Regions from separate parts of the Homo sapiens genome. Here region 2 is linked to region 1. Evidence: fine-mapped expression QTL. A gene starts in region 1. The other region holds a variant in brackets. All regions are shown on one strand. Distances are from middle to middle. Region 1 holds the start of PHETA2 (PH domain containing endocytic trafficking adaptor 2). Region 2 holds the start of TNFRSF13C (TNF receptor superfamily member 13C).

The links. PIP is the estimated chance that this variant, and not a neighbour inherited with it, causes the effect.
Region 2: its variant is fine-mapped to the expression of PHETA2 in whole blood (INTERVAL, PIP 0.98).

What each region holds. Positions count from the first base shown.
Region 1 is chr22:42,072,621-42,075,516 of GRCh38, reverse strand. PHETA2 (PH domain containing endocytic trafficking adaptor 2) reads right to left here and starts at 1,269. Exons shown (of 3, transcript NM_001002034.3): 1 at 1,176-1,269. RefSeq lists silencers at 218-512, 752-1,131 and enhancers at 486-1,216, 1,217-1,949.
Region 2 is chr22:41,925,994-41,928,834 of GRCh38, reverse strand. TNFRSF13C (TNF receptor superfamily member 13C) reads left to right here and starts at 2,029. Exons shown (of 3, transcript NM_052945.4): 1 at 2,029-2,197; 2 at 2,504-2,734. The coding sequence starts at 2,062. It also overlaps a transcript of CENPM not described here. RefSeq lists enhancers at 1-30, 174-243, 2,801-2,841 and a silencer at 1,969-2,708. The variant AG/G (reference allele first, on the strand shown) is at 1,321.

The DNA of each region.
Region 1 (2,896 bases):
CTCCACCTTCGAGGCCTAATGAAACCACAGCCTCCACCGGGAAGCCTTCCCTGACCCCTGAGAATCCCCCCACCCATCCACCCAGCCAGGAACCCCTGAGCAGCTTAAGGGGATGGGTCCCCTTGTCTTGACCTTTACTCTTCAGACCCCAGCTCCCTGCCTGAGTCCAGGTCAGAGCTACACATGCCCTCATGGTTCCTAGCTTTTCCCTTCTAGCACTTCCTGGCTTTAACTGAAGTCACCTAATCTGGGAGGCCTTCCATGATCACCATATCATCTAAGGTGGCCCTGACCACCAAGGTGGCCTGACCTAAGGTCACCTGACCAGTAGACCCCCCCATTTCTGGTTTGTTTCCTTCATCCCACGACGATGTCATATGTGTTTACAGCACTGTTCCCAGCCCCAGAATGTCTAGGGTGGGGCTCAGCTAAGTTCCCAGGAGAACCCCAATACCCAGCACCGTGCAGGGCTCAGAGAGGCCCTCAGGAGGGATCTGTTGAATTAATGGGGATACATCAGTGGACAAATCGAAGTCTCCCGCCCTCCTGGAGCCTACATTCCCACAGGGGGAAACACACTGTAGGCAAACAAAATAAATACTAATAAATTAATGAAAGAATAATTAGTGAAATAAGAGATAACATAAGGACCGGTAATGCTAAGGGTTATGGAGAAAAACAAGCCAGGCCCCTGGATGGGGAGAGACGCCATTCCAGTAGGGGGGGCCCAGGAAGGGGGAAGAGATCACAGATGTTTGCCAGAGGAGTGGCCTCACTGGGGGTCCTGGGCCCAGCACTGGGGCACAGGGAGGGGGTGGGCAGCCCGTGGGGCCATGACCCCTCCCCTCCCCCGCGTCTGGGGAAGGGCGCTCCCTCCTCTCCACCAGTAGGGGGGCCAGGCCACCGCACACCGGGCCTCCCGCCCGCCCCACCGTCTTCCTGGATTCTTTTGTTGGAGGAGAGGCGGGCTGGGGGTGCGGGACCGCCGGGCCAGTGGCCACTGCGGGGAGCCCCAACCCGGTTGTCGCCCTAAACAGAGGTCACCTCGGTCAGGGTCTCCCTGGCTGCCGCCTTGGTTTCCCCGTCCTCGCGTCGGGGCTGTTCGCCGCCACTTCCCCGCGGCCACACCTTCCCTGGGGCCACCTCCTCCCGGAGCCCGCCGGGCCCACTCTCACCTCCCGCCGCCGATCGCACCGAAGCCCAAGAGGGCGATCCCAGCTCGAGATCCCGCGCCTCCGCCTGGGCTGCAACGTGGCCGCGGGAGCCGGGAGACCCCGCCCGGGAGGCTGGAGTTAACGCCCCTCCCCGCCCAGTATTCGCCAGGCCCGGGATCTCCGAGGCCGCCTCGAGGTCTGCCAGGGCGGGAAACTGAGGCCCGAGAGGGCGGTGAACTGCCCGAGCCACAGCACTGGTCGGTGCGGGCGGCCTCGAACCCAGAGGCCCCCCTCGGACGGTCCGCGGGCCTCGGACCCAGCCCACCGTCCGGAAAACTCTGTCCATCTCTTCCTCTCTGGTCCCCCTCTCCCTGCTCGGCCCACTTTCCCGGCAGAGCCAAACCAGGGATGTCTCTGGGTACCTCCCTAGGGTGGGCTCCTACACAGCCCGCGAGGGCCAGCCAAGCTTTGTTGGCCACCCACCGGGCCACCGGGGTCGGCTGATTTCTGCCTCTGGAAATTACCCATTTCTGCTTCCCTGGCCTGAAACCCACCGGCAGCCCCCAGGCTCTGCACTAGTGGGTGGAGGAGGAGGCCTGCGGTGAAGGTCGCAGGAATGCACAACCAAACCCAAGAGACTGGAACTTCTGGAAGGCCCTGGAAGCCGGAGGTGTCCTCAAACATCTGCCCATGAACCTGGCTCCCGCCTCAGAGCCTTTGCCCTTGCAGTTCCTGCAGCCTAGAATGGCCTTCCTTCCCACCCCCAACCGCAGCTCCACTCCTCAGGACGCCTCTGGACACAGATTTGAGTCTCTGCTCAGTGGTCTCCTCTGGGACCATTGTAAAGCAACCTGCCCTGCAGTCTCTGTCCCATCCCTGGGGTGTTATTTCCATCAGAGCACTCACTGCTAGAGTAAACTTTCCTATGCTCATGCTTTTATTTTCTTGTTTATTGCCTGTCTCCCCTACTAAATTTTATTCAGTTAATACTGTACACCATAATAAATGTGTTAGAAGATAATAAGTGGCATGGAAAAACAGAGGAGGGTAAGGGAGATGGGAAATTGTGGGAGTAGGGAGGTTGCAATTGCAAATAGAGTGGTCAGGGTAGGCCTCACTGAGAAAGTAACATTGGACAAATACTTGAAGGAAATGAGGGAGCCAGCCATGCCAATTCCAGGCAGAGGGAACAGTCAGCGCAGTGGCCCTCAGGCCTGTTGTGCTTGAGGACCTGCAAGAAGGCCAGTGAGGCTGGGAGGCCTGGGGAGGGGCAGACAGTAGGAGGTGGGGGTAGAAGGGGTGGGATGGGGCTCTGTAAATCTGGGAGGGCTGTTACTCTAGACAGGGCTGTGAGGAGGGACCTGAGCGATTTCAAGGCATACTCTGGCTTCTGTGGTGAGAATCAATGTCAGTGGAGGCTGGAGACCAGTGAGGAGCCTGCTGCCACTATCCAGGCGAGATGTCACAAACGCGGCAAGAGCGGGGAGGGAGAGGCAGCCAGAATTAGAATGGCTGTTGAAGGTAGAGAACACAGGATTTGCTGAGGAGTTGGATGTGGGGAGTGAGGGAAAGAGCAGGCAGGACTGCACAGTTTTGGCTTGAGCACCTAGGAGAGTTGTCATTATCTGAGATGTGGAAAGTGGCCGGTGCTTGGTCTGGGTTATGTTTGAGACACCCAGTGGCCATCTGAGTGAAGGTGCTGTTGGGGCTCAGAAAGCGATGCCTAAAAATATGGCACTTGG
Region 2 (2,841 bases), 150 kb after region 1:
GCCACAGTGCCAGAGAGAGGGACCCTTGCAGGTACAGCTCAGAATCTCCCTCCTACCCAGACACCCCCAGGTTCTGTACTGCCCCGGGACTGGTGCCCTGCCCATCCGCAGCCCGGATGCTCCCTCCTCCCTCCCAGCATCCCCTGTGGCAGTGGCCATGCCTGCCCCCAGAGCAGCTCAGGCTCCCCTTTCATCTCTCCAAGCCTTAGCCCCTGCAGCCCTCCGCCTGGAGTGTTTGCCTCCCCCTCGCTGCTGCTCAGGGTCTCCCTCTGCCCCCAGGCTCCCTCCCCAGCCCCTGAGTTTCTCCTCTCACTGTGCTTCCCCAGCCCTGAGTGCTTAGGGGTCTGGGTGGCATGTGTGGCATTTAACCCCATGCTCTCTGCTGAGCCCTGAGCTCCCAGAGTTCCCTCCAGCCCTGGCCCTGGGGAGGGGGTAGCATGTGACCAGGAGGGCGGAGGGGCTTGTGTGTGTTTCTGAGACGCAGTCTGAGAGAGACACGGGTGACAGACAGTTGGGGACCCCAAACACTGGGGAGCAGAGATAGACAGGAGGGGCCCGCAGTGAGACACAGAGGTGAGCAGGAGAGGACACATAGCCCTGGAGAAAAGGAGCAGGTGTGGGCGGGCTTCCCTCCACTGCAGTCACAGTTCCCTCACTCATAGGCAGATCTTCCTGGGTCCTCCCTGCACAAAGCCCCAGTGGCTCCCTCGTGTCCCCCAGCCACAGTCCAAGCTCCCTAATGTGCTAGATAAGGCCCCAGTCCAGCCTTTCGGTCCCAGCACTCCCTGGACTTCCTGTTTGGGCCTCCAAGCCTTTGCTCCCCTTTGGCCTTCACCCCCATCTGCTCCCTAGACCTCAGTCCATCTGGCAAACACTTCACCATCGCCCTCTCCATGAAGCCTTCCGGCCCACCTTCCAGGATGACGTGAGCTGGTGCCCTTGCTGCGAGGCTGTCTTCCCCCATCAGCACAAGTGTGAGATTCCCTCAGGGCAGACCCACATGCTACTTGGGCCTGGTACAAGTGTCTGATGTCAGGCTGGGCACTGTGGCTTCACACCTATAATCCCAGCACTTTGGGAGGCCGAGGAGGGCGGATCACCTGAGGTCAGGAGTTCGAGACCAGCCTGGCCAAATGGTGAAACCCCACCTCTACTAAAAATACAAAAATTAGCCGGGCATGGTGGTGCATGCCTGTAATCCCAGTTACTCGGGAGGCTGAGGCAGGAGAATCGCTTGAATCTGGGAGGCAGAGGTTGCAGTGAGCCGAGATTGCACCACTGCACAGAGCCAGACTCTTTTTCAAAAAAAAAAAAAAAAAA[AG/G]CAGGTGTCTGATATCCCCAACCAGCTCTGTCCAGGAAGGGCAGGAAGAGAGGAGGAGACAGGTGGGTTGGGGGAGATGGCAGGGGAGCACTCGGGGTCATGGAGAGGCTTTGGCTAGACGGAGCAGAGGAACCACTCAGGGTCTGTGTCCTGGCTGCGGGGTCCATCCCCCTCCCTACCCAAGAGGAGGCTCTGGTCTGCCCCCAGACACCTCCCAGCACCCAGCAGAGGGCCCACCCAGGCGGTGCTGGTTGAGGGGCTGAATTGGGGAACCACAGGTAGAAAGAGAGGCCAGGCCGGGTGCGGTGGCTCACGCCTGTAATCCTAGCACTTTGGGAGGCCGAGGCAGGTGGATCACGAGGTCAGGAGTTCAAAACCAGTCTGACCAAGATGGTGAAACCCCGTCTCTACTAAAAATACAAAAATTAGCCGGGCGTGGCAGTGGGCGCCTACAATCTCAGCTACTCGGGAGGCTGAGGCAGAGAATTGTTTGAACCCGGGAGGCAGAGCTTGCAGTGAGCCGAGATAGCGCCATTGCACTCCAGCCTGGGCGACAGAGCGAGACTCCGTCTCAAAAAAAAAAAAAGAAAAGAAAGGGGGGCCCCAGGCGAGCTCGGTCCCACCCAGCAGGCGGGGGCGGGGCAGGGCAGAGTGCTCCCCCCGCCCCCCGCTTCCTCCCCGAGGGCCCCGGAGCCCAGCTCAGCCTCAGTCCCCGCAGCTTGTGCGGCGGCGTCGGCACCATGAGGCGAGGGCCCCGGAGCCTGCGGGGCAGGGACGCGCCAGCCCCCACGCCCTGCGTCCCGGCCGAGTGCTTCGACCTGCTGGTCCGCCACTGCGTGGCCTGCGGGCTCCTGCGCACGCCGCGGCCGAAACCGGGTAAGGGGGACCCACGGGGCGCGCGGCGCCGGCAGCTGCGGGGAGAACGGGGCCCCGATCGCCAGGGCGCAGGCAGAGCCCCGACCCCCGGGGGCGCCGAGGGCTGAAAGGACCCTGTGGGCAGGGCCTGGAGGGGCCCGCGATCACCGCGTGGCCCTCACCGCCGCCTCTCTCCCTCCCCTTGTCCACCGCCCCCCGGCTGTCCCTCCCCTCCCCGGCCAGCCTCGCCCCCCTCCGCCCCTCCCCGTCCCCGCTCCTCCCTCCCCTCGGCCCCCTGGCCTCCCTCCCTGTCCCCTCCCGAAGCAGCCGGGGCCAGCAGCCCTGCGCCCAGGACGGCGCTGCAGCCGCAGGAGTCGGTGGGCGCGGGGGCCGGCGAGGCGGCGCTGCCCCTGCCCGGGCTGCTCTTTGGCGCCCCCGCGCTGCTGGGCCTGGCACTGGTCCTGGCGCTGGTCCTGGTGGGTCTGGTGAGCTGGAGGCGGCGACAGCGGCGGCTTCGCGGCGCGTCCTCCGCAGAGGCCCCCGACGGAGACAAGGACGGTGAGTTCCGTGTGTAGGGGAACCAGTCTGAGCGGGGCGCAGGGGCTGGGGTGTCGGGACGGTCTAGGGGGAGATGCATGGCCCCTGAGGGGGAGAGAAGGGCTTTA